Homo sapiens: one gene and its partners. The protein of the gene in region 2 interacts with the protein of the main gene of each other region in a pairwise test. Each region holds a gene or a part of one and is shown on either strand. Other genes may lie near its edges.

Evidence for each region.
Region 1: the proteins of PRR3 (region 2) and MYPOP interact in binary tests that used the Homo sapiens proteins (3 or more experiments, as listed by UniProt).
Region 3: the proteins of PRR3 (region 2) and PSMA3 interact in binary tests that used the Homo sapiens proteins (3 or more experiments, as listed by UniProt).
Region 4: the proteins of PRR3 (region 2) and ASF1A interact in binary tests that used the Homo sapiens proteins (3 or more experiments, as listed by UniProt).
Region 5: the proteins of PRR3 (region 2) and HNRNPA0 interact in a two-hybrid assay, tested with the Homo sapiens proteins (one large-scale study listed by BioGRID).
Region 6: the proteins of PRR3 (region 2) and KHDRBS3 interact in binary tests that used the Homo sapiens proteins (3 or more experiments, as listed by UniProt).
Region 7: the proteins of PRR3 (region 2) and SNRPA interact in a two-hybrid assay, tested with the Homo sapiens proteins (one large-scale study listed by BioGRID).

The regions. Positions count from the first base shown.
Region 1 is NC_000019.10:45,888,803-45,893,079, reverse strand, and holds the end of MYPOP (myb-related transcription factor, partner of profilin), read left to right. Parts: intron 1-800; coding exon of another isoform or gene 801-910; intron 911-1,756; coding exon 1,757-2,457; 3' UTR 2,458-3,057; downstream 3,058-4,277. UniProt on the Homo sapiens protein: Transcriptional repressor; DNA-binding protein that specifically recognizes the core sequence 5'-YAAC[GT]G-3'. Dimerization with PFN1 reduces its DNA-binding capacity.
Region 2 is NC_000006.12:30,559,934-30,565,048, reverse strand, and holds the end of PRR3 (proline-rich protein 3), read right to left. Parts: intron 3,722-5,115; coding exon of another isoform or gene 3,683-3,721; exon of another isoform or gene 3,284-3,682; intron 3,216-3,283; coding exon 2,925-3,215; intron 2,661-2,924; coding exon 2,554-2,660; 3' UTR 1,326-2,553; downstream 1-1,325.
Region 3 is NC_000014.9:58,261,775-58,266,460, reverse strand, and holds part of PSMA3 (proteasome subunit alpha type-3), read right to left. Parts: intron 2,757-4,686; coding exon 2,691-2,756; intron 1,097-2,690; exon of another isoform or gene 1-1,096. UniProt on the Homo sapiens protein: Component of the 20S core proteasome complex involved in the proteolytic degradation of most intracellular proteins. This complex plays numerous essential roles within the cell by associating with different regulatory particles.
Region 4 is NC_000006.12:118,900,314-118,904,999, reverse strand, and holds part of ASF1A (histone chaperone ASF1A), read right to left. Parts: intron 4,235-4,686; coding exon 4,119-4,234; intron 1-4,118. UniProt on the Homo sapiens protein: Histone chaperone that facilitates histone deposition and histone exchange and removal during nucleosome assembly and disassembly.
Region 5 is NC_000005.10:137,744,592-137,748,776, forward strand, and holds the end of HNRNPA0 (heterogeneous nuclear ribonucleoprotein A0), read right to left. Parts: 3' UTR 1,060-4,185; downstream 1-1,059. UniProt on the Homo sapiens protein: mRNA-binding component of ribonucleosomes. Specifically binds AU-rich element (ARE)-containing mRNAs. Involved in post-transcriptional regulation of cytokines mRNAs.
Region 6 is NC_000008.11:135,582,524-135,587,209, forward strand, and holds part of KHDRBS3 (KH domain-containing, RNA-binding, signal transduction-associated protein 3), read left to right. Parts: intron 1-4,686. UniProt on the Homo sapiens protein: RNA-binding protein that plays a role in the regulation of alternative splicing and influences mRNA splice site selection and exon inclusion. Binds preferentially to the 5'-[AU]UAAA-3' motif in vitro.
Region 7 is NC_000019.10:40,760,017-40,763,545, reverse strand, and holds part of SNRPA (U1 small nuclear ribonucleoprotein A), read right to left. Parts: intron 646-3,529; coding exon 472-645; intron 1-471. UniProt on the Homo sapiens protein: Component of the spliceosomal U1 snRNP, which is essential for recognition of the pre-mRNA 5' splice-site and the subsequent assembly of the spliceosome. U1 snRNP is the first snRNP to interact with pre-mRNA.

The DNA of each region.
Region 1 (4,277 bases), on a different chromosome or scaffold from region 2:
CTGGTCTTGAAGTCCTGACCTCAGGTGATCCACCCGCCTCGGCCTCCCAAAGTGCTGGGATTACAGGCATGAGCCACCACATGCGGCCAAATTTGCCTATTTTGGACATTTCATATAAATGGCCCCTGTGATCTGTGGTTCTTTGTGACTAGCTTGTTTCCCGTAGCCTAACTGACTTGTATTTTGGTTGGACCCCTCAGGCTGCTGGTGGAAAAAGATACTGTCAGGGACAGGGGTGGAAGCAGAGAGCCCTCAGGGAGGCGATGACTGCAGTGGTCCTGGTGGGAGATACTGGTGGTTGGGCCAGGGTGGGGGACCAGGAAGAAAGAAGTTGTATGTATTTAATTTGAAGGCAGAGACGATAGCTTCTGTATGTGGATGGTGTCTTAGTAAACAAAACAGTGAAGGTGTTTAACCTGAGCAGCTGGGAGGATGGAGCTGCATCAGCTGAGATGGGGGTGGCTGAGGAAGGAGCAGGGTGGGGGAGGATCAGAAGCCCAGCTCCGAGCAAGTGAGTTTGGGGCGTTTTTCGACAATTGAGAGTACACAGCTGGAGACAGGAGTCTGGAGCCCAGGCGAGAGGTTCAGGCTGAGCCCAGGAAGCTGGGAGCCCCTGTATGCAAACTGTTCAAGCCCATGAGCATGAATGAGACCCCAGGTGAGTACAGACTGAGGAAACCTACCAGGCTGGGGGCTGAACTGGAAAATCCTGCTGTCCTGGTTGGAGAGAGTCTCAGGGAAGTGTCCACCAGTGCCCAGACACCCCAGCTCTCTCCCAGACCTCTCTCTCACTTCCTCAGGATCCAGCAGTGTGGTGCAGTATCCATATAGTTCAGAACCTCGTCAAATGTTGGCCCTTGTCCGAGCGCAGTGGCTCACACCTGTAATCCCAGAACTTTGGGAGGCCGAGGTGGGTGGATTGCTTGAGGTCAGGAGTTTGAGACCAACCTGGCCAACATGGCAAAACCCCATCTCTACTAAAAATACAAAAATTTAGCCAGGCGGGGTGGCGCCTGCCTGTAATCCCAGCTACTTAGGAGGCTGAGGCAGGATAATCGTTTGAAGCCGGAAGACAGAGGTTGCAGTGAGCCGAGATCACGCCACTGCACTCCAGCCTAGGCTACAAAGTGAGACTTTGTCTCAAAAAAAATTAAAAAAATAAAAAAACTGTTGGCTCTTACTGTGAGTGAGATGGGAGCTGCCTGGCCTAGCAAGGGACTTCCAGGACCTGTTTCCACTAAAGCTGGCAGGACTTTTTCTCCTCCGGGTACAAAGACTGGCCTGCCATGGAGCTTCTCTTCCAAGGCATGATCTGACTTAGGTTTTAAAAGGATCATTCTGGGGCCAGGCGCGGTGGCTCACACCTGGAATCCCAGCACTTTGGGAGGCCAAGGCGGGCGGATCGCCTGAGGTCAGGAGTCCGAGACCAGCCTGGCCAACATGGTGAAACCCTGTCTCTTATTAAAAATAGAAAAAGTAGCCGGGTGTGGTGGCGGTCACCTGAAATCCCAGCTACTCGGGAGGCTGAGGCAGGATAATCGCTTGAACCCAGGAGGTGGAAGGTGCAGTGAGCCAAGATTGCACCACTGCACTACAGCCTGGGTGACAGACCAAGACTGTCTTGGGGCTGGGGGGCGGGGGTGAGAAGGATAGTTCTGGGTTCGGGTAGGGGGGAGGTGAGGGAAGGAGTGGGAAAGGGGAAATCAAGGCAGCATCGAGGGTCGCTCACCCCTTACCTGTATTTCTCTCTCTACAGATACATCAGCCCACAGCAAGGCGGGCTCCAGCAGCCCGGAGCCATGGGCCCGGCCCTCCTGCACTCCCCAGGAAGGGGGCTGCCCACGGCCCAAGGAGCGTGAGTCACCACCCCCTTCGGCCCTGCAGCCGGTCCAGCTGCCTCGCCTGGCCTTGTCTCCACCACCCCCAGCCCCTCCACTGCCACCCCCACCGCCACTGGCCCAAGTGGCACCCTCACCCCCTAGCCCCCCACCCCCTCCTCGGCCTCCACCCACGCTCTCGGCCTCAGACCCCTCCCTGGACTTCCTGCGGGCCCAGCAGGAGACTGCCAACGCCATCCGGGAGCTGGCCGGCACCCTTCGACAGGGACTGGCCAAACTGAGCGAGGCCCTCAGCGCTCTGCTGCCCCTTCTGCCAGGAACCCCAGTTGACTCCCTGCCTCCACCTCTGCCCCCACCCCCACCCCCACCGCCACCTCCCAGGCCTGTCCTGCCCCCACCGGCCCCCAAGGTGGAGATCACCCCAGAGCCCGTGTCCGTGGTGGCTGCTGTGGTGGACGGGGCAGTGGTGGCAGCCAGGGGAGTGATCATTGCCCCAAGGAGCGAGGAGGGGGCACCCCGGCCCCCCCCAGCCCCGCTCCCTCCGCACGACTCCCCCCCACACAAGCGGAGAAAAGGTTTCCCTACACGGAAAAGGCGCGGCCGATGGAAATCTCCGTGAAATCTACTATCTATGATCCTGCCTGCAACCCCTCTCCCCAGCTTGGCGCAGTCGAGGGGGGCGATGCTCTCTGCCCATCCCAGCTGCACCCTAGCTCCCTGCTCCAGGGATGTGAGCACCCACTCCCTGTGCTAGTTAGTGCCTGATTCTCTGGGGGGGGCCTCAGTAATGGGCCCCCCCAACCCCTTTCTCTGGTACAGTGCTGTCTGCCTGGCTGCCTCCCTTAACCCTGACTTCTAAGCCATCAATTTCATGTTATTTATTATTGCCCTATGTGGGGTGGGGAGGGAACCTCTCGGGTCTGCACATCTCCCCTTCCCTAACAGTTCCTGTTCTTGACTTGAAGAGAATTGACCCGTGGGGGACTCCCCACCTCCCCAACCCAGACTTTGGAGCGGGTGGGAGTTGTAAGACAAATCAAAATACGGATGACAAAGAGGATATAGCCGTGTATACCCCAGGGAGAGGAGGCGCCGAGTTCTGATGGGAGAGGTACAGGTTGGGTTCTCTGCCTACCATTGCTGTCTCTGACTTCCAGAGCTCAACCCCCTCCTTTCTCCCAGTGGTGACAAGATATCAATAAACTTATTTTTAATACAATTACTTGAGGCTCTGTCTGAGACAGGCCTGGGGGACCAGCACCTACACCTGCCCCGCCCCCTCCACAGGCAGGCAATTGGGAGGCTGGTGGTTTTCCAGCTTTTTTTTTTTTTTAATTCTTAAAGCCATCAAGTCTTGTGTTTACATGAAATCTTATTCCTACTCTTCCTTTAGATACCAGTCTAAATGTCAACTCCAGGAGAAAGTCCTAGATTCCTTCCCCAAGGCTAACGTGGGTTTGCCTCTTAGAGTCTCTTTCAGTGTCCTGTGGTTCTTTTTCTTTTTCTTTTCCTTTCTTTTCTTTTCTTTCCGTTTTTTTGAGATAGGATCTCGTTCTGTTGCCCCAGCTGGAGTGCAGTGGCATGATCACAACTCACTGTAGCCTCGATCTCCCAGGCTGAAGCAATCCTTCTGCCTCAGCCTCCCAAGTAGCTGGGACCACAGGCATGTGCCACCATGCTCAGCTAATTGTTTTATTTTTCTAGAGATGGGGTTTTCTATGATGTCCAGGCTGATCTGGAACTCATGGGCTCAGGCAGTCCTCCCACCTCGGCCTCCCAAAGTGCTAGGATTACAAGCATGAGCCACCACACACAGCTGGGTTCTTTTTCATAGTGACTCTAAATGAACACAGGCCTTTATCTATTTAAGGCACATTTGCCCATAATGTCATGAAGGCAGGAACTGGTTCTTTTACTCTGCTGCAGGGCCAGGTAACAAAGTAGATAATCACCACCACTCTGGACTCAAGACGTGGCTCAAGTACTGGTGCTGCCCTGGCCAACTGTGTAACCATTGGCTTCCAGTGTCCTCATCTGTAGAATGGACATAAAGATGTCAGAGTCTTTCTTCCTATAATTAGATTATACTTTTCTTTTTTTTTTTTCTTTTTTTGAGGTAGAGTCTCCCTCTGTCGCCCAGGCTGGAGTGCAGTGGCGCGGTCTTGGCTCACTGCAACTTCTGCCTCTCGGGTTCAAGTGATTCTTCTGCCTCAGCCTCCCAAGTAGCCGGGACTACAGGCGTGTGCCACTACACCTGGCCAATTTTTGTATTTTTACTTATTTAGTTAGTTTTTTGTTTTTTTGTTGTTGTTTTTTGGTTTTTTTTGAGACGGAGTCTTGCATCTGTCCCCCAGGCTGGAGGTGCAGTGGTGTGAACTCATCTCCTGGGTTCATGGAATTCTCCTGCCTCAGCCTCCTGAGTAGCTGGGATTACAGGTG
Region 2 (5,115 bases):
AATTATTTATTTTTATTTTTATTTTTTATTTATTTATTTTTGAGATGGAGTCTTGCGCTGTCGCCCATGCTGGAGTGCAGTGGTGCGATCTCGGCTCACTGCAAGCTCCGCCTCCTGGGTTCACGCCATTCTCCTGCGTCAGCCTCCCGAGTAGCTGGGACTACAGACGCCGGCCACCACGCCTGGCTAATTTTTTTTCTATTTTTAGTAGAGATGGGGTTTCACCATGTTAGCCAGGATGGTCTTGATCTCCTGACCTCGTGATCCACCCACCTTGGCCTCCCAAAGTGCTGGGATTACAGGCGTGAGCCACCGCGCCCAGCCATAAACTTCTATCTTAAGACTTCTTTTTAAATGGCAGTTACATAAGCCAGAACTACCTGGAGAAATCTGATACTTTTATTTTGACCTGTAATTTTCAAATGTCTACTTTTCTCCAACTCTACTACCCAAGTCTATGTCACCATCATGGCTCACTTGTACTACTGAAGTAGCCAGTAGCCTTCTAATTAACTTCCAGGTCCAAGGTGGGCCCTCTCCATACAAGCTGATTTTTTTTGAAAAGCCAGCCTAAGCCATGATACTCCTGTCTAAAATTCTTCAAAGGCTTCTGTTCTAAGAAAAGAGCCAAATCTTCATGTTTTCCAAGGCCCTGAGTGGTCTAACTCCTCTTTCTTCTGCATCATCTCCCACTGTCCCTAGGTTTCTTAGCTCCTCTTCCCCTAGGTCTTTTAGCGAAGACCTTTGCCTTGACTTCCCTCTCCCACCCCACCTCCTGTTTATCCTTTGGAGCTTGTCTCAGTTGCATCTCCTACCCTGACTCCCTTTATTACACAACTCTCTTTCACCCTCTTTTCTTCCCTGTCTTCTTCCCAGCACTTTTGACAGGTTTAACTTTACATGCTATTTGTGATTATGAGAAACCTGTCTTCCCTGTACATTTTAAATCCATTGGCTTTGGCTGTCAGTTATCTCTAGTGCTTGGTATATTGCCTGGCCCACAGGCATTCTGCAAATTGCTGCTGAAAGACTCCTTCATCATTACCACTCCATAAACACAAACTCTGCAAAGTAAAATATTTAAAAATAACTCCACGGACACCTGGCCTTTCCTTTTTCTTACAAAACTTTGCCCTTGAACATAAGGCAGCTTGTTCTGGTTGATGCCTACAGGCTAATGGAACCTCCATTGGTTTTTTTCAGCCTGGAAGAACCTTAAGCTTTGTCATTCCCCATCACTAGTGTGTATGAACTAAAGAATAAGCTGACTCCACCAGGTGAGAACAGCTTCATCTGCAACTCCAGAGATGACTAGAACACAGGGATTAAATAAAATGCTGGTTTCCACTGCATTTATTACTAATATAAAAAAAGTTAAAAAGAAAAAAAAAAAAAAAACCTCATTCTCAGTTCTCCAACAGCTCTCACCCCTCCCTCTTGCCAATACAACTCCTGACCCATTTCCTCAGGGCCAGTTCAAAACTGAACCTGTTCACTGCTGTTTTCACAGAAAACAACCAGTGCCAGGGATGTAGGGGAAGAGGATTGGAAGAGGGCAACAGTACTGTCCAGCTTCTACCCAAAGATAGGCAAGGTGGAGATTCACAGAATTCAAATGAATGGACTGGTGGCCTCACAATGACATAGTCTAATTAAAATGGGCTGGAAGGGATCTAGGTAGGATAAAGCCATTGGAGGCTTTATAAGACATGTCATGGGTCTGTGTCAGACTCAGAATAACCAACAGGAGAAGAATGGGGAGGGCCAGGGAGGCAGTCTGATGGAAAGTTCACAATTCTCCCATGTTGGGAAGTGGGAAAGTCCAGAGGGCACCAAGCGCCTCACTCATTTTGGCAGGAAAACTTATTCTAGTGCTGGGAAGTCACAAAAATGCCACGGACACTGAGAAAGGCTACAAGGGGATGCACAGTTTCACAAAGCACGGTGATCATAGATAGACCATAGCGGTGGGGATCATGCTACTGACAGAGAAACTATGAAATCCAAAGGCAGGGAGAGTGGCCTTTTAGGAAGTAACTCTGCACCAGTCACCCAAACTTGACCCCAGGTTAGACAACCTGGCTGAGTTTCACAAGCAGCTGACAACATTGGGGGTAGGGAATGTCACATAAAAAGGACTTAAAACAAGCAGCTAAAAGAAGGGAATGGTAGGAAACCGCTCCAGGGCTCTCAGGAATTGAGGGCAATACTGGGGAACAGGTGGACAGATGCACAAGAAACAGCACCAAAGAGGTTTCCTGTTCAGCAGTCATTTGATGACGGGAAAGAAGATCCAGGAGGCAACTGAAAGGAAGCAAAGATGGGTCCCAAAGGCGAGTCTCTACAGGCTGGATCAGAAGAAAGCGCGTATGCCGCGCACCAGTGATGCAACACCACTCTGGACCCCACACGGGGGAAGTGGTGGATGGGATGGGTGTGTCACTGACTGAGGGTGTTAGAAGAGCCTCACAGTAGCCATCATAGGGCTACAGAGAAATAAATGGCCGCTAGGTCACAGAGAGCTCCTTCCAGCCTGGATGGGAAGGCACAGTCTCACAGAGGAGGTCCATTGACGCCTGGATGGTAGAAGGCACAGAGGTCCTCATATCGACAGTGGCCCTTTTTGGCAAAATGTCGGCAGACAGGGCGGTCGGATTTGTCTGTGAACAAGTGAAAATGGAACAGTTAAAAATTTGAGCAACAAAGAAAACAAATACAATGAAACGCAGAGACAGAAGGAGAACTGATTTTCTACCCCCTACCATTTCCAGGTATTTTGGAATGGTAGTCTTTCTCCTGGGAGAAATAACATTGAGGTCTACTTCTGCTTCAAAAGCAAAAAGGAAAGCCCAGAGAAGATTGTGAATGATCTTCTGAAAATTAGGTCACTCTGGGAGTAATGGGCATAACAAAATGGACCTCACCTTCCATAACCTGGGGGTCATCCTTGGGCGGGCAGGTATTCTTGATAAGAGACCAGCTTTTGAGCCTTCGAGGGTTTCTCTGTTCCTTGTGAAAGCTTCCCCTGGTGGGACCCCCATGGCCTGGCCCCGGAAAAGGAGGTTCTGCATTGACTCCCCACCAACCACGACCATATGGGCTAGACCTGGGGCCAAGCCCTCTCCGAATTGGGCCTCTACCCCAAGGAGGAGGTGGGAGACTCAGCAGTGGTGGAATCAGTGGTCCCCTTGATCCTGGAGGACCTCTGTGAAGAGCTGGAGAGAGAGAGAGAGAGAGACACAGAAAGGTGTCTAATGGGCAGCTGAATCCTGATAAACCGTGATTAAAAAAATTTTTTTTATTGAAGAACAGCATACATAAAGACACACCAGTTTTAAGTGCACAACCCAGTTCTCACAAAGTAGACACACTTGAGTTTCCACCACCAGGTGAAGAGATAAAGCCTTATTAGCACCTCAAAAGATCCTCCCCTTGTGCCCCTTTTCCCATTACCCACCCTCCTCCCCAAAGGTAACCACTATCCTGACACCATAGGTTAGTTTTTGCCTGTTTTTGAACTTCACAAAAATGGAATCATACAGTCTGCATTCTTTTATGTCTGGCTCCTTTCGCTCAACATCATGTTTGTGAGATTCATCCAGGTTGCCTGTAGCAGCAGTTCATTCATTTTCGTTGCAGTGTAGTCCCATTGCATGCATACACAACAATTTATTTATCCATTCTACTGATGATGGACATGTGGGTGGTATCCAGTTTGGGGCTATAACGAGAAATGCCACTATAAACATTTTTATACATGTTGTTACACATACGTATGCATTTCTGTTGAATATATACGTAGTAGAGGTATTACTGGCTTATAAAGTATATGTTATGCTCAAGTTTCATACATAATGCCAAACTTTTTTTTCACAGTGGTTATACCAATTTGCACTCTCACCAGCAGTTGTCCTATAGCCTTGACAACACTTGGAATTGTTAGGTTTTTAAATTTTGCCATGGTGAGTGTGAAAAGTGGTGGTTATTTTTTTGTTTGGTTATTATTATTTATTTAATGAGAGATTGGGTCTTGCCACACTGCCCAGGCTGGTCTTGAACTCTTGGGCTCAAGTGATCCTCCCACCTTGGTCTCCTAAAGTGCTGGGATTACAGGCATGAATCATCATGCCTTGTTTTGTTCGGTTTTTATTGTGGTAAAAAACACATAAAAATTACCATCTTAACTATTTTTAAGTGTACAGTTCAGTAGTGTTACATATATTCATATTGATGTGAAACAGATCTCCAAGTTTTTGTTTGTTTTTTGAGATGGAGTCTCGCTCTGTCGCCCAGGCTGGAGTGCAGTGGCGCGATCTTGGCTCACTGCAACCTCTGCCTCCTGGGTTCAAGTGATTCTCCTGCCTCAGCCTCCCAAGTAGCTGGGATTACAGGCGCCCACCACCACGCCTGGCTAATTTTTGTATTTTTAGTAGAGATGGAGTTTTACCATATTGGCCAGGCTGGTCTTGAATTCCTGATCTCATGATCCGCCCGACTTGGCCTCCCAAAGTGCTGGGATTACAGGCACGAGCCACCATGCCCGACCTCCAAAAGTTTTTTATCTTGCAAAACTGAAACTCTGTACCCATTAAACAAAACTCCCCTTCCTCCAGCTTCCTTCCCCCAGCCTCTGGTAACCATCATTCTACTGTTTCTTTGAAGTTGACTTTATTTTTATTTTTTGTTTTGACAATCTTGCTCTGTCATCCAGGCTGGAGTGCAGTGGCGTGATCTCGACTCACTGCAACCTCTGCCTCCCAGGTTCAAGCAATTCTCATGCCTCAGCTACCCGAGTAGCTGGGATTACAGGTGTGCACCACCATGCCCAGCTAATTTTTCTATTTTTAGTAGAGACAGGGTTTTGCCATATTGGCCAGGCTGTTCTCGAACTCCTGACCTCAAGTGATCTGCCTGCCTTGGCCTCCCAAAGTGCTGGGATTACAGGCGTGAAGCACCATGCCCAGCCCCTGAATTTGACTTTAGACACCTCAGATAAGTGGAATAATACACTATGTCTTTACTTAACATAAAGTCCTCAAAGTTCATCCATGTTGTAGTATGTGACAGCACTTTCTTCCTTCATAAGGCTGAATAATATTCCATTGTATGTACACG
Region 3 (4,686 bases), on a different chromosome or scaffold from region 2:
GCATTTCTGAACAGACATGACAGGATCAAAACAATGTTTGAGCAAACTGCCCTTCATCTACTGTGGATATGTTGGGGGATGATGGAATATAGTGAAAGATAATGGGTGCTCATACAGCAGTCTAGACTTAAGGTGATTCAACTACTATATATTAAACTAGATTATCTTTTATTTTTTAATTTTGAAATCTGGATGCTCAAGCTCTGCCTGCACAACCACATGAGGAAGAAGGAACAATGACAACAAAAATAACACTAAATTTAAATTTAAGAGTACTACTTTTAGGAAATAGACAAACCATTATTTGGGTACAACTAAAGGCAACTGGCATGGACTCAAATATTTTGGGGAAGAAAAAGACTAAAAGTTCTAAGGAAGAAAATGCGAACCTTGATAGTTTGAAATAGTTAAAAAGACAGTGTAGAAACTGCTTAGGCAGTTTGATTATGGACTATTAGATGATACTTGGGTCTGATAATGGTATAAGGAGAATAAAGTATTTAGGGATCCAATATTACGCCTGCAGCTTTTTCCAAATAGTTCATGGGGGAGGGGGATGTGTAAGTGGTTAACTGAAGTCTAACTAGATAGGTTTGTTGTAAGCTTAGGATGTTTACAGTTCTTCATGTTAAGTTGAGCGTGATGGGAAGGGAAAGAATGCTGATCTTTAAATTTTTGTCCTTAGTTAAGTTCTGTATTTAGTGAATTAATTGCATCCTAAAAAGTCAAACTTGAAAAGCACATTTTAAATGGCAAATCTATTTTTTACATGTTTGTGAAGTTTTTATTTTTTAGTAAACAGACCATCAGAAGAGAACAATGGTACAGAGCAGGGGTCAGCAGATGGATTTTGTAAAGCATCAACTTGTAAATATTTTCAAGTTTATTAGCTGTATGGCTCTGGTTTCTGTTCCCTGTTCCAAATGTTAAAGTCTACTGTTGTATTCTAAAAGCAGCCATGGACTGAATGTAGCTGTGTTCCAATAAAACTTACACAAAAGCAGGCAGTGGGCCATAATTTGCAACACCTGATTCACAGCATAATTTTGTCACAAACTGAAAGTGTTCCTCAATTAAAGTGATTTTTTTTTCTTGATTTTTCTCTGGGATTTATTGTTTTTCCCATTCCTTGCTAGGATTTAACTACAGAAAGACAGATAGTAACTGCTCTAAATATTCTAATTTCCTTTATTTTTTTGAGATAAGGTGTCGCTCTGTTGCCCTGGCTGGAGTGCAGTGGCGTGATCATAGCTCACTGTAGCCCCCAACTCCTGGCTGGGGCTCAAACAGTCCTCCTGCCTCAGCCTCCCAAGTAGCTGGGACTACAGGCACGCACCACCTCACCTCGCTAACATTTTGTTTTGGGAGATAGGGTCTTACTCTTTTGCCCAGCCTGGTCTTGGAACTACTGGGCTCAAGCAGTCCTCCCAACTTGGCCTACCAAACTGGTAGGATTACAGGGGTAATCCCCCTCAACTGACATAAATATTCTAATTTTCAAATTTCCATATAATAGTATGGAGAGATGAAAACAAAAGGAAAAGAGTAGAAGATAGGAACCTAGCATCATACTAGTAAGTGTGCAATGGAAAAGAACATAGGTCTAAGACTCATAAGGTCTGGATACTGTTCAGAACCAGCTGATTCTGTGGTCCTATGCAGTGTGTTTAATCTGCAGTTGAGCTTGGGCTAAATGACCTCTAAGATCCTTTTGTCAGCTTTACTAAAATACGAAACAAATTAGGTTTTATAGGGGGTTCTAGAACTTAGCATTGTATAAATGCCAAGCACTAATAAGTATTTTCTAGAAGCTGGTCTTAAATAAGTTGAATGAGTAATTAGTTGAGCAGGGTTCTAGTACAGCATTAACATTAAATGTATGTGAAATTGTATCTCACTTCAGTTTACCAAAACACTGATAAATGGTATGCCTGCTTTTTAGGCAAGTTTCTGACAGGTAATCAATAATATTGAAACAGTATCCATGAAGTCTTTAAGTTGATCAACGCATGGCTAAAAGGAAAACCAAGTTTTTAAGAAAACTTTTTCACACTAATAGCTGAATTTTGTGAAAGAAAAAGTGGGTAGTCGTAAGAGTGTAGGCTTTATGCCTTACCTGGCTAGGAGCAAAGCTAAGAGAACCGGTGGAGCACAGCCAGACATAAAAGCTGTGTTCCAAAGAAAGAATATAGGAAAAATATAACTTTTTATTAACTCAAAATTTTAAACAAAATTTTCAAACTAGAGCTCACAGAGATTCATAAATAGGTTTCAAGGATTTTGTGAAATCATATCAAAAGTTGTGTTTTTCTAGATTGAGGCTTTATAGCAGTTATTCAGAATCTATAAAGGGATGTATAACACAACTCTACAGATAATATGTTACCAGCTTTCCCATTCAGTGACTTAGCAGCTTCATAAACTCTCAACATCAAACCACACTATATCCTTACACCGAGCTTCCCCAGCCACAGGCCACATGGGGCCAAACACAAATTCGTAAACTTTCTTAACACATGATGAGATTTTTTTTTAAGCTCATCAGCTATCATTAGTGTTGGTGTATTTTATGTGTGGCCCAGGGAAGCCAAATGATTGGACATCCCTGCCTTAGACTGAAATGTCTGTGGTGATAAAATTTCACTGCATTAGGATGACGACATAGTAAAAATTCAAGCATTAATTATTACCTGAAGCTTCTCTATTTCCGTCTTTGCAGCTTGCCTGGCTTTGCCGATGGCACAGCCCCAATAACCCTATTTAGAAAAAAATATATATAATCACTGAATTAGTACACTATCATATGTAATTAATGACTACTAATGTTTCTATAACCTAGTGAAAGGATGCTAAATGACTTTTAAAAGCAAGTATAGAAAAATATAGTCAAACACATTCTGATGAATGCCAAAGGGCTCAAAAATACTAAAATACCAAACAATTCCAAAACAACCTGTATTTTTAATAAAGGTATATCCAAAAATATGTAAATTATGTAATCATATACACTTTAAGACATTTTGGGGAACAGGAACGGAAAAGATTTTAGCACTATGACAATGAAAAATGAAATTATATATTCCTGAGAGACAGAAATAAAGTTAATTCCTATGAGTTCAGTACTCTAAACCCCCAATTTTATTATTTTGTAAATTTTTTTAAAGATAAGGATGCACAGCTGGGTGTGGTGGGTCATGCCTGTAATCCCAGCACTATGGAAGGCCAAGGTGGGCAGATCACCTCAGGTCAGGAGTTGGAGACCGGCCTGGCCAACATTGTAAAACCCTGTCTCTACTAAAAATACAAAAAAATTAGCTAGGTGTGGTGGCAGGTGCCTGTAATGCCAGCTACTCCAGAGGCTGAGGCAGGAGAATCGCTTGAATCTGGGAGGCAGAGGTTGCAGTGAGCTGAGACCGCGCCACTGCACTCCAGCCTGGGCAACAGAGTGAGACTCCATCAAAAAAAAAAAAAAAAAGGATGTACACATATATACTTCTGTTACAGCAAAATATATTTAAGAATCTTCATTTTCTTCAATTAGTAAAAACGACAAAAATGTAAGGATAAGAAAACAGTTAAGAAACGGTAACAGGCCGGGTGCAGTGGCTCACACAAAGTGCTTGTAATCCCAGCACTTTGGGAATCTGAGGCACGTGGATCACTTGAGGCCAGGAGTTCCAGACCAGCCTGGGCAACATGGTGAAAGTCTGTCTCTACTAAAAATACAAAAATTAGCCAGGTGTGATGGTACAGGCCTGTAATCCCAGCTACTTGAGAGGCTGAGGCACAAGAATCCCTTGAATCCGGGAGGCAGAGGTTACAGTGAGCCAAGATTGCACCACTGCAGTCCAGCCTGGGCAACTGAGCAAGACTCTGTCTCAAAAAAAAAAAAAAATGGTAATAATTTAGGGAAAGCTCTTAGAAATCACATTTAAACCTTCTCTTTAAAAGGGAAGGCAGGGCAAGGTGGCTCACACCTATAATCCCAGCATTTTGGGAGACCAAGGTGGGCGGATTACTTGAGATCAGGAGTTCGAGACCAGCCTGGCTAACATGGTGAAACCTCGTCTCTACTGAAAATACAAAAATTAGCCGGGTGTGGTGATGCATGCTTCTAATCCCAGCCTACTCGGGAGGCTGAGGCAGAATTGCTTGAACTGGGGAGGTGGAGGTTTGGCGCCACTGCACTCCAGTCTGGGTGACAGAGCGAGACGCTGTCTGAAACAAAATTAGGTCCGGCACTGTGGCTCACGCCTGTAATCCTTGCACTTTGGCAGGCCGGGGTGGGCAGACCACCTGAGGTCAGGAGTTGGAGACCAGCTGGCCAACATGGCAAAACCCCATCTGTACTAAAAATACAAAAATTAACCAGGCATGGTAGTACATGCCTGTAATCCCAGCTAATCAGGAGGCTGAGACAGGAGAATTGCTTGAACCTAGGAGGCGGAAGAGGTTGCAGTGAACCAAGATCGAGCCACTGCACTCCAGCCTGGGAGACAGAGTGACACTCCATCTTATAAATAAATAAAATAAAAGGGATGACATGGCTGGACATCGATGCTCACGCCTGTAGTCCCAGCATTTTGGGAGTCCAAGGCAGGAGGACTGCTTAAGGCCAGGAGTTTGAGACCAGCCCTGGGAACGTGGAAAGACCTTGTCTCTATAGACACCAAAAAAATACAAAAA
Region 4 (4,686 bases), about 88 Mb from region 2:
TGGGCATGGTGGCGGGTGCCTGTAGTCCCAGCTACTTGGGAGGCTGAGGCAGGAGAATCACTTGAACCGAGGAGGTGGAAGTTGCAGTGAGCTGAGATCGCACTACTGCACTCCAGCCTGGCGACAGAGTGAGACTCCGTCTCAAACAAAACAAAACAAAACTGAAAATGAGATGGAAATAGCTACATAGCAGATTTTCAAAAAATATTAATAATCCTCTATTATGAATAGTTACTTTGCTAGACTCTACAATATAGTATGCTCTTTAAACCACACATAATGTGGAAACCAGTGAAGGTAAGGATTGCTTTAGGCAGATGTCAAAGACCTTGTTTTAAATCAAGCTATTGTAAGGTGAACCTTGAGGAATGCAGAAAGTAAACTGAGTTAGACTAGACTAAGAGCATGAGCGAAGGGCAGGGCCCCATCCGTGGTAGGGTGCAGGTAGTAATGAGACGACCGGATGGAAGGAGCCAGACTGGGGAACACAGGCAGTGATGGCTGAGGCATCTGAGGCAGCCATTCTGGGTGGTAAATGGATCAAGTCCCAGCAAATTAGCTTACCTGTTGCCAGGGCACCAAGGAATATTCCTGGGCCTAGATGAGCACTTTAGCCAATGCCTTAGCTTGTGAAAATTGAAGACTGTTGTTTACTGTATGCCTAACACAGGTAGATGATACAAAAAGGCATAAAATCGCTACCTAGTGTCCTAGGCTAAAAACCTCAGTCAGCTTCACTCCCTTATCTCCTACATCTAGTCAGTCTCAACATTTTTTTCATTTCTGGAGGCTGAATTCATGTCATCTCCTATCTGGAATATTGCTTAGAATTTTCTAACTGATCTCCCCAGCTCTAGCCTATCATTTGCACTGCTACCAGCATTAACACAGATATGTTCTTTCTCTTTGGTTTTAAAACCTCAGATTATTAAAACCCTCAGAAGAGTATTCCCTTTTCTAAGGGATAAAATCTCAGTTCTTTAACTTCATTGACAAGGCCCTTCTCAGTTTGTCTCCAGCCAATATCTCCATTCATACCTCCTTTAACTCCACCATTGTTCTAGAGATATGAATCACACAGGTTCTTTAAAACGTGGTGATAATCTTTTCACGCTCTGAGCACGGTGGCTCACGCCTGTAATCCTAGCACTTTGGGAGGCTAAGGTGGGTGGATCACTTGAGCCCAGGAATTTGAGATTATCCTGGGCCACATGGCGAAACCCCATCTCTACAAAAACAAATTTAAAAAAGAAATACTTCACCCCCTGTGCTTCTAACATACTGTTCCCTTGGCCTGAAAGGTCCTTCGCTCACATCCTGAAAAATTCATCTTTTAATCTTTTTTGGAGCTTACATCGAGTGTATTCTCAGTGACGCCCTTTCTAACTCAGAAGGTAGAATCAATAGATTCCTTTTTTATGTGCTGATATTTCTTGTCACAAATTATCTAAGAACGTATGCCCTGTGATCTAAACATGTTTATTTTTCAGTCTTCTCTTCTAGATGCTATGCTTTATCCAGGGCAGGAGTCCCATCCAGTTCATCTTTATAATCTCGTGTGGCTCAGCTCTGAGCACTTAGTATTTTGGAATTCATTTGTAAATCAGTTCCTGCCCTGAAGGGGTTTATGATCTCTTGGCAAGACACCAGGATAGGGGACAGCCAGCCTTGTCCTGGAGAATATGCTGTTTGTCTTAGAGATTCTACACACCCCTGCACAGAGGGGTTAGATTACTTTCAGTGTACCCAAACGGATTCTAATATACCTGAAGTGGGTGGAGATGGGAAATATATAATAGTTCAGTACTGCTATGAGAACTCTTCCCCTTCCCTTCAGTAAATTGGTTCCCTTCAGTAAATTGGTTCTAGGCATGTTTCTGTTTTAAAATCTGTTGTAAATATAAAACATCTTTTAAAAAGCATTTTACAATTTGAAAAAGATTCAGTTTGAGCAAATTTAAGTAGAGAAGCTTACAGGCCTTTCAAATAATTTAGGATGCAGAAGTAATGAGCAGAGATCTTTGTTTTGACTCTAGCTGGCAATACTAGGCAGATGTCTGGACATCTTCCTGCTAGCCTTTGACTCACTCAGAAGAAAGACATGTTTAACTATTTAGAGAGGCAAAATCATGGCAGACCAAGAGATTACTATAGTAGTTTTAAAATACAAAACAAAAGCTGTAATTTAGTCTCTTTCTGTTGATAATGGTGAATTCTGTAAAACCTTTAGGCTGAATATACATTGTACCTCCTCTGTTCTTTTTGGCAACATGTACACTGACACCAAGGTAAAACTACGTGAAGATCACCAGCAGGAAATACTTTTGAATACATTTTTTTTGCTACAGCACTTTCAGCCAAAAGCTTAGGAGTATGCTTAATAACAAACACAAAAGATTTTCAAGGGTTTGTTTCAATAACAAGGCATTTATTTGTAAGTTCTTATAGTAGCCAAAAAAAAAAAAAAAAAAGTATTATCAGTACCTGTCAACCCAGGTTTCTTTTACTGTATCATGAATTATCAGTAAAGTATGGGTTCCTTAGGCCTGTGGGTCAGAGCAAGTCCTGCTTTTTTATATAACAATTTCAAGAAGTTAAGAGAATAAAAATGTAGTTCTAATTTTAGGAATAGGGCACTCTTTATGAGTGACTGATTATACTGTTTTATTCCCCATAACATTTTAATGAGATAGAATATTATCCACATTTTATAGAAGACTGGAATGACTAAGGGAGGAGGTTAGAGAGGTAAAGCCACACATGGCTAATACAGAGGTGTCGGGATTTGACCTATATCTATAACTGCAGTGCTTCCTTCTACAGAACAGGGCATTCTGTTACCCATGTCTTTTACATGGTTATGCACTCACACAACTTTGATTAACAGCACTTTTAATTCATATATTTGATTAGTATATTTGAGCTTTTCTTAGCTATTTCTTTAGATACAGTAAATTATTTGTTGCTTTTTAATCAAAAGTACTAAGGCTAGGAAACCAAGATTCTAAATTCTGTATTTAGGACAGGGGAGGGAAAGGTAGCAGCTCTAGAGATGGCATGTGTCTAAGTGATTCTTTGCCAGTTTCTGATGGGATTATTTGACCAATGGTATTCATTTAAATTGGTCCCATCTGTGAAGTGAGAAAACAGAGGTCAGGCATAGGAAGAGTTAGATTTTCTTTCTGGATTAAGTCTTTTCAGTGAGTTCCACTTAACTGATGGGACATTGCTGGGTTGAAATACTTGTAACAGAAATTAATAGTAGTTTTAAAAAACCTATGGCTAGTTACTCTTTGGTCTATTACAAACATCTCCCTTATAAATAAGCATGCATAATTGAGGAATAACTGAATGGTTCCATATAGCAATTTAACATGGATTAAAAGAAATAACACTTTTGAATATAGAAGACAATGTCTGAAGCCTTGGTATAGATCCAAATACTCTCAGTGGTATCTAAGAACAAAATTTTTATTACTAGAAATTCTCTTCACAAATACCTAGTGGGGTAGTAAATTTGCAAAAGTAGTCCTCTTATAAGATAATGTAGATTATAAGATGCTTTAGTAAACTCTGGAATGTCATTCCAATGACCCAAGACCACACATCTCTATCCACTAAACGTATCTGTTAACCTAGCTCAACTACTGATTATGCTGAAATAAAGTTGTTTTTGTTACATCACCATCAGTTCCAGTGGCTGAAACCATAAACTGAAGATGCATATTACTAACAATGCCAGTTAGTTTTAGATATTTTGAATCCATGTTTTGGGTTGCTAGACAGCCACCTTGGAAGTCTGATACTGAGGTGCTATTCACAGGAAGAGCCCCAAATTCACCACCCTGTGTGCCATGATACAGTATAAAATTTACTGTAGGTTGTTCATCTCTCTAAAGTAAACGTCACATTAACATCTCTCAGCATATAAAACCAGGAAGTAAGAGTTCCTCTGTGACACAGAGACTGCCTAAAACATGATGGAAACAGATTTAAAGTGAATGCAGCAGAAGCAGTTCTTTAACCCAAAAGGAAAGGGATAAGGGTTATAAGATAATAGATAATATAGTCTACTTCGAAACATATTTGGCATACACATTTACCAAGATTAATCTTACCTGAAATACAAACATATGCCTTCCTGCGGGAACAGGACCCACTAAAACAGAGTCTAAAACTTGATCGTATTCTTCACTTTCTGCAGAGCCCACATAGATAATTTTCCATTCCAAGTCTAGGGTTAAAAAACCAAAGCATTATTTCATATTCAGTAATTACATTACCAGATGACATCAAAGACCCTTTTAATGTCCACTTAGCCACTTACTGGCTTTAAAATTGGCTTCTCATAGCAATCCAGAAAGGCAGTGAAATGCTCCTTATAAAGTTCCTACCAGAGTTCACACTTTGATCAGAGTTTCTCAAAATACTCTTTTGTGAAACACTAGTTCCTGGACAGTGCCTCACAAACAAGATAACATAGCCAAACACTTGGGAAATGCTGTAAACCTTGTCTTGAGGATTCATAAAGCATGCTGGCACAGTAAGTTTTCTGAGATATCCTTCAGTAAAGAACACCAGTAACATTAATCCAGCACTTCCCAAATTTATTTGGCTATGGAATCCCCCTTTTTTTGTATATCATCTTTTAAGGCCCTTCTCAACACACTTTGGAAGGGCAGCCCT
Region 5 (4,185 bases), on a different chromosome or scaffold from region 2:
TGTGGTGGCGCGTGCCTGTAGTCAGTTCTAGCTACGGGGGAGGCTGAGGTGGGAGGATCACTTGAGCCCACAGTTCGAAGCTCCAGTGAGCTATGATCATGCCACTGCACTCCAGCCTGGGCACCAGAGTAAGACCCGGCCTCCAAAAAAAAGAAAAAAAGCCATTTTAACCATTTTTAAATATACGATTCATCAGCATTAAGTACATTCATAATGTTGTATAACAATCACCACTATCCATTTTCAGAACTTTCTCAACATCTGAAAAGAAATTCTGTATCCCTTAAACAGTAATTTCCCATTTCTATCTCTCTGAATTTGCCTACTCTGGGTACCTCATTTAAGTGCAATCATAGTATGTCCTTTTGTGCAGGCTTATTTCACTTGGCATGTTTTCATTCATCTTGTAGCATATACCAGAAATTTATTCTTTCTTATGGCTGAATATTCCATTGTATGTATATACCACATCTTGTTAATTCATTCACCTGATAACACTGAGTTAATATTTCACCTTTTGACAGACCACAGTTAACATTTCCCTAATATTTGACATTTAGTTTCCAATTTTTTGCTACGTCATAATTTTTATGCAAAGACTGTTTTCCTTTCAATAAATTTTTCAATAAACTGTTCTGTTAAGGTTAAATTCCTAGTAATGGTGTCCCAGAGCATATGAATACTTTAATAGTTCTTAATAAATAAATCCATAATTTTACTCTCCTCATTTGCCATTTTTCATAACCTGATGGACAAATTCCGGTCAGCAGTTTGTTACAAATGTATAAAGTGTGACAAAACCAAATGGAGGGAAGCTTTTGGAGAAAGAAAAGGAATTAACAAAGCAGAAACAGCTCAGAAGAGCTCTCCACTAGACAGAGCTGGCTGACTTCTGTGACAGGTTGCCCAACTGCTCCTTCTATCCATAACCTGATGTTTTCCAATTAACTTGGTGACTCTTTGAAAAAAAAAAAAAAAATCTGCCTGTGTCAGGGATCCCCCGGACCAAGCCCATATTGAGATTTGATAGAAGGGTTCACAAAACTCAGCACTGCTAAGTATCGTACTCATGGCTAAAGTTTATTACAGTGACACAGTAAGTGTACACAGTTGGATCATACAGGAAAAAGACATAAGCAGAATCTGGAGGAATCCATGTGCAGGCTTCTTTAGGATCTCTCCCTCCCATGAAGATTCACACAGAGCACATTTTTATACGAGGGATGTTTCTGCCTAGGGACTCAGTATGCAAGGTTTTCATTGGGAGTTTGGTCATATAGACATCCTTTACCTGGCATGTACCAAAATTCCATACTCCCAGAAGGAAAGCAGGTGTTTAGCATAAATCATCTTGTTTGAACAGTCTAGGTACAGTGAACCACCTTTATTAGTGAACAGTGAGAATACCCCTAAATCCACGTGTTCAGATAAGGGCCAACCATGCAAGTAGGCCACTCTAAAAGATACCAGCCTCAGGCCAGATATAACTTTTTCTGCACACCCCCAATTCAAGATTCATTTTGGCCAAAAAGCAGCATCTCTCAACATATATATGTAGATACCTATGGTAGAGTTGAAAAGATTGTGGATCACTTATACCTTATCCAAGTAGTTCTGATTGCTTTCCTTATAAACCTTCATTGAAAGCAGCTGTATGAAAGGAATAGGAATTTTGGGAAACACATCTTTTAAAATTCAAATCAGATCATGGAACTCCTCTGCTCAAAACTGAAATGGTTCACCATTCATTTAGTGAAAACCAAAATCCTTACAACAACCTACAAATCCCTACATGATCTGGCCCCTCTGGCCTCATTATTCCTTTCCTCCTCTTCCTTCAGGTCCAACAACCCTGAACAATTTGCATTTCTTCAGAGGCCAGACACAGTCCTGCTTCAGGGCTTTTGCTCTTCCTAATCCTCTACCTAGAATGCTCTTCCCATACCTATATTGCTCACTCCCACATTTCCTTCAAGTCTTTGCTCAAATGTCACTTTCTGAGAGACCTACCCATACCACCTATTTTAAAGTATGCTATCCTCACAAACATCCCTTGCAACAATCGCCATTCCTCACCCTAATTTTTTCTATACTTCTCATCTTCTAACATACCATATAATTGATTATGTCTTATTGCCTGTCTCTCCCCAGTAAAATATAAGCTCTTTGAGGGCAGGGATTTTTGTCTTTTTCTTCTGTATTTCCAGCACAATCACCCAGCAGAAGAGTAACAAATTTTAACTTGACATACTAAGAAACAGGGAGGCACTGAATTTAGGGATAGTAACCTAGTGCAAATAGCTAGATCTTCACGTTTGGTGGTGTGGGAAGATCAAGTCATAAGAAAATGTGAAAGAAGTTTTTTTTTTTAATTTCACTGAAGAGATGACCACAGTATATTCAGTTATTGAAGAGTTTTAATAAAAGGAACTATTTACAAGGGTATGGGCACAGTTAAGGCAAATCAACAAGGTTTGAACCTTCTTGGGACTAGAGAATCTAGCAATAGGAGACAGTTACGAGAAGCCAGAAAAGACCTAGAGCTATAAGAGGGCCACTGGAGCAGAGCTGTGGCCACTCACAATCTCTTGCTAAGTATATGAGAAAGAGAAGGAGCAAATATTTCAGCCTCACTTTTCTATCACTGTCCAAACCCACCATGAATAAAGCCAGAAAAGAGAGTATGCAGTTCTTTATTTGTCAGCCTCCCAGGAACACAGAACAAGAGAGATAAAGATGGAAAATAGATCAGGAAGGGCAAAAAGAATATCCAGCACAATGGCCATTTTGTAAAGCTATATGCGCAAGACACAATGCTTCAATGTGCTACCAGCATCTTCAACTATGTCCAAATCTTCCCTCTAAATCTTCTCTTCCTATTACCAGTGGCATCACCATCCTCTCACACAGTAATTTTGATTAATCTACTCTCTCTTCCTCATTCTTCATATATCCAAATATTTGTCAATTATGCTTTCACAACTTACCTCAACTTCTTTGTCAGTCTATTTCCATTGCTCTTTGTTCATGCTCTCATTCTCTTACCTGGTTAACATCAGTTGTCTTAGCAAACTTGCCACTTTGAAACATCCCCCACTGCCATTTATGTTACTCAGTGCTACTGGACTAATCTTTGTGAATTAGTTTCACTACCATTATTGTTGCTCAAAAACCTTTAATGACTTTTACTGCCTACCCTAAGTCCAAACTCCTTAGCCTACTACTCAAAGACCTCAGTAACCTGGTTCCAACTTCATTTTCTCAATTTATTTCTCACAACTCTCTTTTATCTTAGTACAAATTAGACATTTGTTAGCTGGAAGTCAATGAAGCTTAGTAGAAGGAGCGAAACAACTAGAATTGGTCAAACTTGGATTCAACTCTCAGTTCTACCATGTCACCAGCTGGGGGTCCTTGGGAGTTACTTTTCTGGCATGAGATTTAGCAACCTTATCTGTGAAGGTTACTGAATGATGCAATGAGAACATTTGTAAATGTACCTAGTGTTTGGCATCCAATATGCATACTTCTCCAAATACGCTCCATGTTTCTGCCTATCTGTCCTCCACCTAAAATGCCCTCTTTCTCCTCCCACCTTCTCTATAAGACCTATCTTTTAAGGTTAAATGTTATATGCTCCACAATGCCTCTCTTGATCCTTCTTCCTACCTGAAGTCACCTCTCCTCAACACTCACATTATTTATACCTTCCTAATATTAACAAATACTTAAAACATTACAGATGGCTAGCAGAATTCATCTCTCTCCTACTAGAGTTGAAGCAGCAGTGATTTAGAGAACTACCACATGGAAGCTCACCCAGCAAGTAAAGAGCAAAGCCTAAAGACCATGCATATCTCGGGTACTAAGATATAAAAGTATGCCTTTTGCTAGTCTGTCCCACCTCTTCATTAGGGGCCATATAGTAAAATTACTGTGTACCAGAGACTACAGTAAGCCCTTCTTTATATGCATTCTTTCACTGAATCTGCCCAACAATCCTATGTAGCAGGTATTACCATAGCCTATTTTTTTACAAATAAGGCAAGTGAGGCTCGGGCCAGTTTGTCCAAGGTCGCAGTGCTAGAAAGTGACTGTGTCAGGAACAGAATTTGGTCTATTGGATGCCCAAATTTACGTCCTTAAGGGCTATGAAATATTAAATCAGATACCCACTATGAAGCA
Region 6 (4,686 bases), on a different chromosome or scaffold from region 2:
AAAAGTTCTCTATTTTCAATTAGTGCAAATCAGTTTTTCATTTATCATTCAGCGATTCTTTGATATAATTCATAGACTGACTTAACGTAAGAGAGAATAATAACCGTGAAAGTTGAGGGGGAAGGGAATTCTTTGATGTCCTCATTTACCATAAATGAAGAAAATAAGAAGCAATGGATAGGTGATTCATATTAATAATTGAAATTGTTAAAGTAAGTGTATGTGAACCATTGTCAATGAAAGGGAAGCAGTAACAATGATAAAATGCAAGTATCAGTAGGTTTTCATTGTTTTACTTTAGGAGAGATCTCTTGCTAGGTGCTCTGTGCCTCTTTGCATAGTTTCTAGAAGGTTGCAATAATCCCCTGGGCCTCAGACAACCTCTTCAACCTCATCTGTGTGGCCACTGGTAAGATCAAAGTCTTTGTCTTGGACATATTTAAGTTTTTGTAATTCCCTGAACATTCTGTGTCATCTTAGTCTTCCAGACCTTTGCTTATACTGCCTCCTCAGCCTAGAATGGTGTTCTTATGTTTCATTTGACTGTCTCCTTGTGTCCTTCTACACGTAGGTCAATCATTGCTAGGGAAATTTAGAGGTGGTAATAGCTAACCTGTTGAGCATTACTACAGTTCTTACATTTCTCTCTCCCACCTAGCTTGTGAACCTCTGGAAGGGCAGGAATGGATAGCTTTTATCTCTTTATACTTGGGAGAGAGTGCATACTGGGAGCCCACTGAATTATATTTTAACAAATCCCGTAATAGTTTTACAAGTTTGTTATTCAGCTGAGGAAGGATGTGTTTCCTCTCTTTGAATTCGTTACAGTTAAATGTGTTCCTACTTCCTAATAATCTTACCAGATGACAATAATAATTATGCCTCAGCTCTTCCATAAATGCTGAGTCTCCTGAAAGTATCAGGGACTCTAAAGGAGAGTAAATCTTAAATTCCTTTTAGGTAGGCCCAGTGTCTGTTCATTTCCACTTTGGCTTACATTGATTTCTTAGGTTTAGATTTAATACAGATGTGGTTGGATGATGTAGTAGAAATTGCCAGGCAGGTTGTGTGGGAAACCTGGATCCTATACCCCATTTTACCATAAATTTTAATATCGGGCAAGATATTTAACTTTTTGGGCTTCATAATCCACTTATTTCAGAAAGAACTATTGCCTTCATTACATGTATTCATCTTTCCATTCAATAAAGATTGGATTTCTACCGTGTGAGCCAGACACACATGTTGTCTGTCTCAGCATGTATACTCTAATTATTAGAGTCTGGAAATAAATTATATAGATTAATAAAACTGAAAAATTCTTGAAAGGTTAAAGTCCAAAGGAGGAAAAGCAAAAGCAAGAGACATTCAAGACATTTGGGTTTGCTGCTTGTACTTTTGATTGTTTTATTTATTTTTTATTTTTGTAAATGATAGGAAAGGCATTAAAACAATTGAATTGAGAAGTATTCTGTAGGATTAATTTACTCCCTTTTCCATCTGCTACCAAAGATAATGGGATAATGGCCCTGTAGAAGATTACCTGCGTTTTTCCAGAACCAGACAAAGGTTTAAGAGCTCTAAAGGAAAAAGTCAACCTTCATTGTTTGATTCCCACACTCACTCATGCCTGGCACTCTTCCAGGCACTGACTGTTACTGCAGCTGTGATTTCAACACAGAGCCAGTGCTCTTTCTGTCACATGGTAGCGTTGCCTTCAAATAACTGACGGTCATATCCGCCAGTGTTGTAATTTGGCTGGAATGCAGTATTTGCAATTTTATCAGCTTCATACAATTACAAGTCTTGCATACATAAAACAGCTGTGTGCTTTCCAGGTGTGCTTTGGGTGGTATAGTGGGACACCAAAGGAAAAGAAATACCATCATGAGTGCACCTCCTTCCCCGAGTTGAATTATCATCATGAAGGGTTCAGATTACAAACGTTATAGCTTTCCCACTTAATTTAGCATCTATTATTCCTGGCAGTGCCTTTTAAGATTACTAGTCAAGAGAAAAGATTTTCCTCATTTAGCTTAGCATTTTGTGAGCTGCCTTGGCACAGTTATAGTAAAAGCTTCAGTGGCTTTTTCAGTATAGTAAAAGCTTCACTGTATATAACAAACTTTGCTGGTACTTGGTATAAGGAGTAGATAAAGCCCTTCAGCTTGCTTACAGTGGCTTGCCATCAGTAGCACTGCCTTGCAGATACCCGTTTGACCTCATCTTCCTCCACTGACCCAGTTTTCTACTTCCAACTTTTCTAATACAGCTTGCAACCTCTGGCATAACTTCAGACCTTGGCCATTGGTCTCAACTGTTTGAAAACCTAAAGATTACTCACCCATCACGCTTAGTTTTGCAGCATGGTAGGGGGAATGGGAAGTAAATTCTTCTTAAAAAATTTTTTTATGTTGGGCTCGGCACGATGCTCACGCTTGTAATCCTAGCATTTTCAGAGGCCAAGGTGGGCACATCACTTGAGGTCAGGAGTTCAAGACCAGCCTGGCCAACATGGTGAAACCTCATCTCTACCAAAAAAAAAAAATACAAAAATTAGCCGGGTGTAGTGGTGCGCACCTGTAAACCCACCTACTTAGGAGGCTGAGGTGGGAGAATTGCTTGAACCCGGCAGGTGGAGGTTGCAGTGAGCTGTGATCGCCCCACTGCACCCCAGCCTGGGTGACAGAGCGAGACTCCGTCTCAAAAAAAAAAAAAAAAAAAGAAAAATCGTTTCTTTGTTTCTTGGATTTTAGATAGGGTGGGTGTATTATAAGATACCCAACTTAGAAAACCAAGGAGCTTGTAACACAAATAAATGGTTATTCATTCATGCATCAAATGGGAAAGTTGGCCATCTTTGAATATACTAAAATTATTACATGGAACTAGAACATCTTAAATTAGATTCTAAATTCCATGAGGGTAGGCACTCTCCCCCTGCCTCCCCTTCCTCCCACCCACCACACTTCACCTTTTTATTCCCAATAACTAGTATATAATGTCTGGCACATAGTAGGTCTTTAGTAAATATTTACTGAATGAATGAATGAATGGTCACAAGATGGTTTTTAAAAATTGTCTCCTGCAGAGAACCCACCACAGATGCCTTCTGTGTGATTTTTCAGTTTTATTCACATAGCAATTTTTATGTAACATAGTATTTAGTATATAGCTATGTAGAACAATCATAATATGTCCAGTTTTCAAAAGATTATTAACTTCTAAGGAAAAATTCTTTATCTCTAGGTTAATCTCTGGCTACTAGCTCAGTTTTTGGCACATTGTAAGCACTTAGTAAATGTTCGTTGGACTGAACCAACCCTATACAGAGACTTGATAACATTGTTCAGATGAAGATTACCATTGATTTTTTCTAAGTTCCTGGTAAAAGCATGTGATGGGAAGAAATATGATAGTATTTGAGAAAATAACTTTCCTAAGTTACTGTTGTCTTCTAGCACTGGACGGGTAGTCACAGGTTACAAATGAATAAGATTAATTTTGTTAGCTCCTGAAGGAAACAGAAAAACCTACTGTAAATCTCATCTCAGTATAAAAAGGGGCTTTAAAGAAGGATGTAATATTTGATGAGAAACTGCTCTCCACAAGGCACTTTGATATATGTCACGTTTTCCTTATAACCACCTACTATGATCTCTACTGTACAAATGAGAATTTAAGGTCAGGGAAGTTAAGTGCCTTGCCCAAAGTCACAGGACTGGTAAAGAAGGAGCAGATTCAGGATTCAAAGTTCAAGGCCTATGTTCTGTCTTGAAAAACCAGTGCTTTAAAAAACAAAACCAAAAAAAAAAACAGTGTTCCACTAGCCGAGGTTATAAATAAAATCTCTTCATCTTTGGAGAAAGTGTAACAGATGCTGCATGTTCCCTTCATCAGAAATGCCATAAAAGGGATTATAGGACACTGAATTAAATAACCTCTGTGTTCCTTGCAATTCACTAATTCCCTGGTTTTAAGCTACCCGAAGTAGGTAAATGGAAATGAACTGTTAGGAAGAAAGGGATGATGTTCGGATTAAAAAAATGAACAAAGCGCTACTAATACATTTATTGGCAAAAATAAGAATAACACTTTCATTTAAGAATTTCTCAACATCTGTACCTCTGAAAAGGGCTTGTCATTTCTTTGGAACTCAGAAACGTAATTTTTAAAAATCTCCTTGGAATATATCCAGTGATAAAGGTTTGATTTCTATACAATGTGTTTGGCTATATCAAACCAACTCAGTTTACTTTTCATCAACTTTCATTTAAAATTTACTATCTGAGGCCATTATTTCCAGAATAAAAGATGAAAAAAGATCACATCAGTGGTTTACTTAAACAAAATGAGGAAAATTCTATTTTTTAAAATCCTGCCACAATAGCTGCATTTTTCAGAAAGTATGCATTTCAATCTTTAAAGATACTCAGTGATTTTCAGATTATGTGTACTGCAAGTATTCTGATATAGTTTTAGGCCCAAGAAAAATTTAGTCAACGGTATCTGTTCTAGTTCTTTTTAAATACTTATATTATGCCCATTTTAGAAAACGTACTGTTAGCCAAAGTGAGAAAACTTGACAATTCTCAGGTATTTCCTTGTAAAATGTGCCTATTGAAATTCGTCTGATATTTCTCAAGGTGAGTTGGTGAAGATATTGGATCATTTATACTGTCATCT
Region 7 (3,529 bases), on a different chromosome or scaffold from region 2:
GTCCAGTGGGAGACCCATAGTACTGCCACTTCCTCCATCCCTCACCCTGCTTGAATTCACTCTGGTACTTCCACCCAACATACCACATATTGTTGTCTGTTGCCTGTCTGCCTCCCACCTCTTTGCCCCTACAGACTATAGGCCACAGGACAGCAGAGGTTTCTATCTCAGTCCCTGCTGCAGCCCTACAGTGCAGAACGGGGCCTGGCACGTAAGGAGGCGCTCAATAGCTCATGGAATCAATCTAGGTGCTGGCACCACTCCAGCCTACCCTAACCTTCCGTACCCTCCAACCAGCATGCCAATTCCTCTGCCCAGGGCCCACCCCCACTGCTACTTCCTCATTCAGTACCACCTCCTCAGGGGGCCTGCCCAGACCACCCAACCTACAGCAGCCCCCCAACTGGTCCCTTTCTAGTCCTGTATTCTCACTATTTATATGAGACCTGGTGGGTGGGACTAGATACTCACAGGCTGGGCAGGGGGCATCTGTCCTGGCATAAGCTGCTGCGGGGGCATGGCCCCTGGTGGGATCTGGCCAGGTGCAAGGCCTGGCGGGGGGATCATACCAGGGGGCGGCATGTAGGGCGGCTGGCCCGGCATGTGGTGCATAATGCGGGGCGCCTGAGTCATCGGCGGCATGCCCTGTGGAGAGAGGGAGGAGAGTGCGTGGTTACAGCAGCCCCAGGAGGCAGAGAAGAGGCCATGAAAGGAAACCTAGCGGGTGAGAGATGTAAGGAAAAACACCCAGAAAGAGGCGCAAAAGGCACCCAAAGAGGGCCCGACAGAGCAAAACAAACCCAGGGTCTAGTGGGACATTAAATCAGAAAGAGTTAAATGCTATTTGTGAGGCTGAGGTAGGAGGATCACTTGAGCACAGGAGGTCAAGACTGCATGCAGTGAGCTCTGATTGTGCCACAGCACTCCAGCCTGGGAGGCAGAGCAAGACCCTGTCTCTTAAACAAAATCAAAGGAGAGGAAGAGATGGAAAGGGACAGTCAGGGCAGGTGCAGAAAGAAATGTGTGGTAGGCCGGGCACGATGGCTCACGCCTATAATCCTAACACTTTGGGAGGCCGAGGCAGGCGGATCGCCTGAGGTTAGGAGTTTGAGACCAGCCTGGGCAACATGGTGAAACCCCGCCCCTACCAAAAATACAAATATTAGCCAGGCGTGGTGGTGGGCACCTGTAATCCCGGCTACTAGAGTGGCTGAGGCAGGAGAATCACTTGAACCCGGCAACAGAAGGTTGGAGTGAGCCGAGATCACACCACTGCACTCCAGCCTGGGCAACAGAGTAAGTCTCTGTCTCAAAAAACAAAAACAAAAACAAAGGAGGGCAGTGATGGAAAGGGACACTCAGGGCAGGTGCAGAACAAAACGCGTGGCAGCAAGGGGAAGAGGGAAGACAACAGATGGCAGGCAGCACACTCAGGGGCTGGAATCACAATCTGAAGTCCAAAGTGGACAGAAAACTAGGTGCAGGGAAGAGGAGAGAGGTTAACAGGAGCCCACAGTAATCCAGACACCATCACCAACTTGGAGAAAGTGTGAGTGGCACCGAATAGAGCATGACCCAGTCAGAGCCATGAGACTCATGAAAGCCAGAGAGACACGGAGGCTCAGAGACCTAAGGAGTGGGCCTGGTTCATCCATCTTTTCTTTTGTACTCGGTGCTTTTTGTATCCTGTTTGGAAAACAGGATGTTTCCACTTTTCATGCCCTCACCAAGGTCATTTAGACATTTTCCTGTTTTCTTCTAGAAACTTTATTGTGTGAGGGCCGGGTGCAGTGGCTCACGCTTGTAATCCCAGCACTTCGGGAGGGTGAGGAGGGCGGATCACTTGAGGTCAGGAGTTCGAGACCAGCCTGGCCAACATGGTGAAACCCCATCTCTACTAAAAATACAAAAATTAGCTGGGTGTGGTGGCACATGCCTGTAGTCCCAGATCCTCGGGAGGCAGGGGCAGGAGACTCGCTTGAACCCAGGAAGCGCAGGTTGCAGAGAGCTGAGATCACACCACTGCACTCCAGCCTGGACTACAGAGCGAGGCTCTGTCTCAAAAAAAAAAAAAAAAAAAAAAAAAAGAAAAAGAAAAAGAAAAGAAAAGAGAAAAGAAACTATATTTTGTGAGTTGTCACATTTGGATCTGCAATTCACTTCAAGTTATATTTTGCATATAGTATGAGGTAGGGCTAATTTTTTCCCCTTGCAGATACCCAACTGCCCCGCATCATGAACTAGGGGAAAAAAAGTCCTTTCCTCAGTGAAGTGCAGTGGTACCTCGATCACACATCAAGTAATTATACAAGTGTAGCTGTACCTAGACTCTTCATCCTGTCCCCTTGGTCTGTCTTCCTACCCTTCTGCCAACTGTATATCATCCTGGTTGGTTGCTGCAGGTTTTTTTTTTTTTTTTGCACATGGACGTGGTGGCATGTGCCTGTGATCCAGCTACTTGGGAGGCTGAGGCAGAAGATCACTTGAACTTGAGAGGCAGAGGTTGCAGTGAGCCGAGATTGCACGACTGCATTCCAGCCTGGGGAGACAGATTGACTGAGACTCCCTCCCGAAAAAAAACAAAAGAAAACAAAACAAAACAAAAAAGAGACAAGGTCTCACTCTGTTACCCAGGCTGGAGTGCAGTGACAAAACCACTGTTCACTGCAGCCTTGACCTCCAGTTCTCAAGCGATCCTCCCAGCTCAGCCTCCTGAGCAGCTGGGACTACAGGAATGAGTCACCACGCCCAGTTTTCTATTTTATTTTTTGTAGAGATGAGGTCTTGCTATTTTATAGAGGCTGGTCTTGAACTCCTGACCTAAAGCAATCCTCCTATCTTGGCCTCCCAAAGTGCTGGGATTACAGGCATGAGCCATTGGGCCTGGCCTGGTTGCTGGAGCTTCCCCTGGTCATGCAGGTCCTGGTGCTTTATTCTCCTCGCCTGGCTTGGCCTTGTCTTTCCACACATTTAGAAAGAGCCAATCAGTGTCCAGTGTTTACCGAAATTCCTGGTGGGATTTTGATTGCAATCACGTTGAATCTTCAATTAATTTGGATGGAACTGACCTCTTGACAATACTGAGTCTTCCTATCCATTGCTGAGTCTCTGATTTCTCCCAGCTACATTCTGTGATTTCAGTGTAGTCGTTCTGCAAACCTTTTGTTGGATTTACCCCTCAGTGCTACTTTTCAATGTGAAGTCTACTGGTCTGTTACTGGCATATAAAAATAAAACTGGGGGCCAGCCATGGTGGCTCATGCATGTAATCCTAGCACTTTGGGAGGCTGAGACAGTGAGTTTGAGACTAGCCTGGGTGATATGGCTAAGCCCCGTCTCTACAAAAAATGCAAAAGTTAGCTGGGTGGAGTGGCACGGACTGACAGTTCCAGCTGCTAGGGAGGCTGAGGCGTATCACTTGAGCCTGGGAGGCGGAGGTTGTAGTGAGCTGTGATGGCGCCACTGCACTCCAACCTGGGTGACAGTGAGACCCTGTCTCAAAACATAATATGAATAAATAAATAAAACT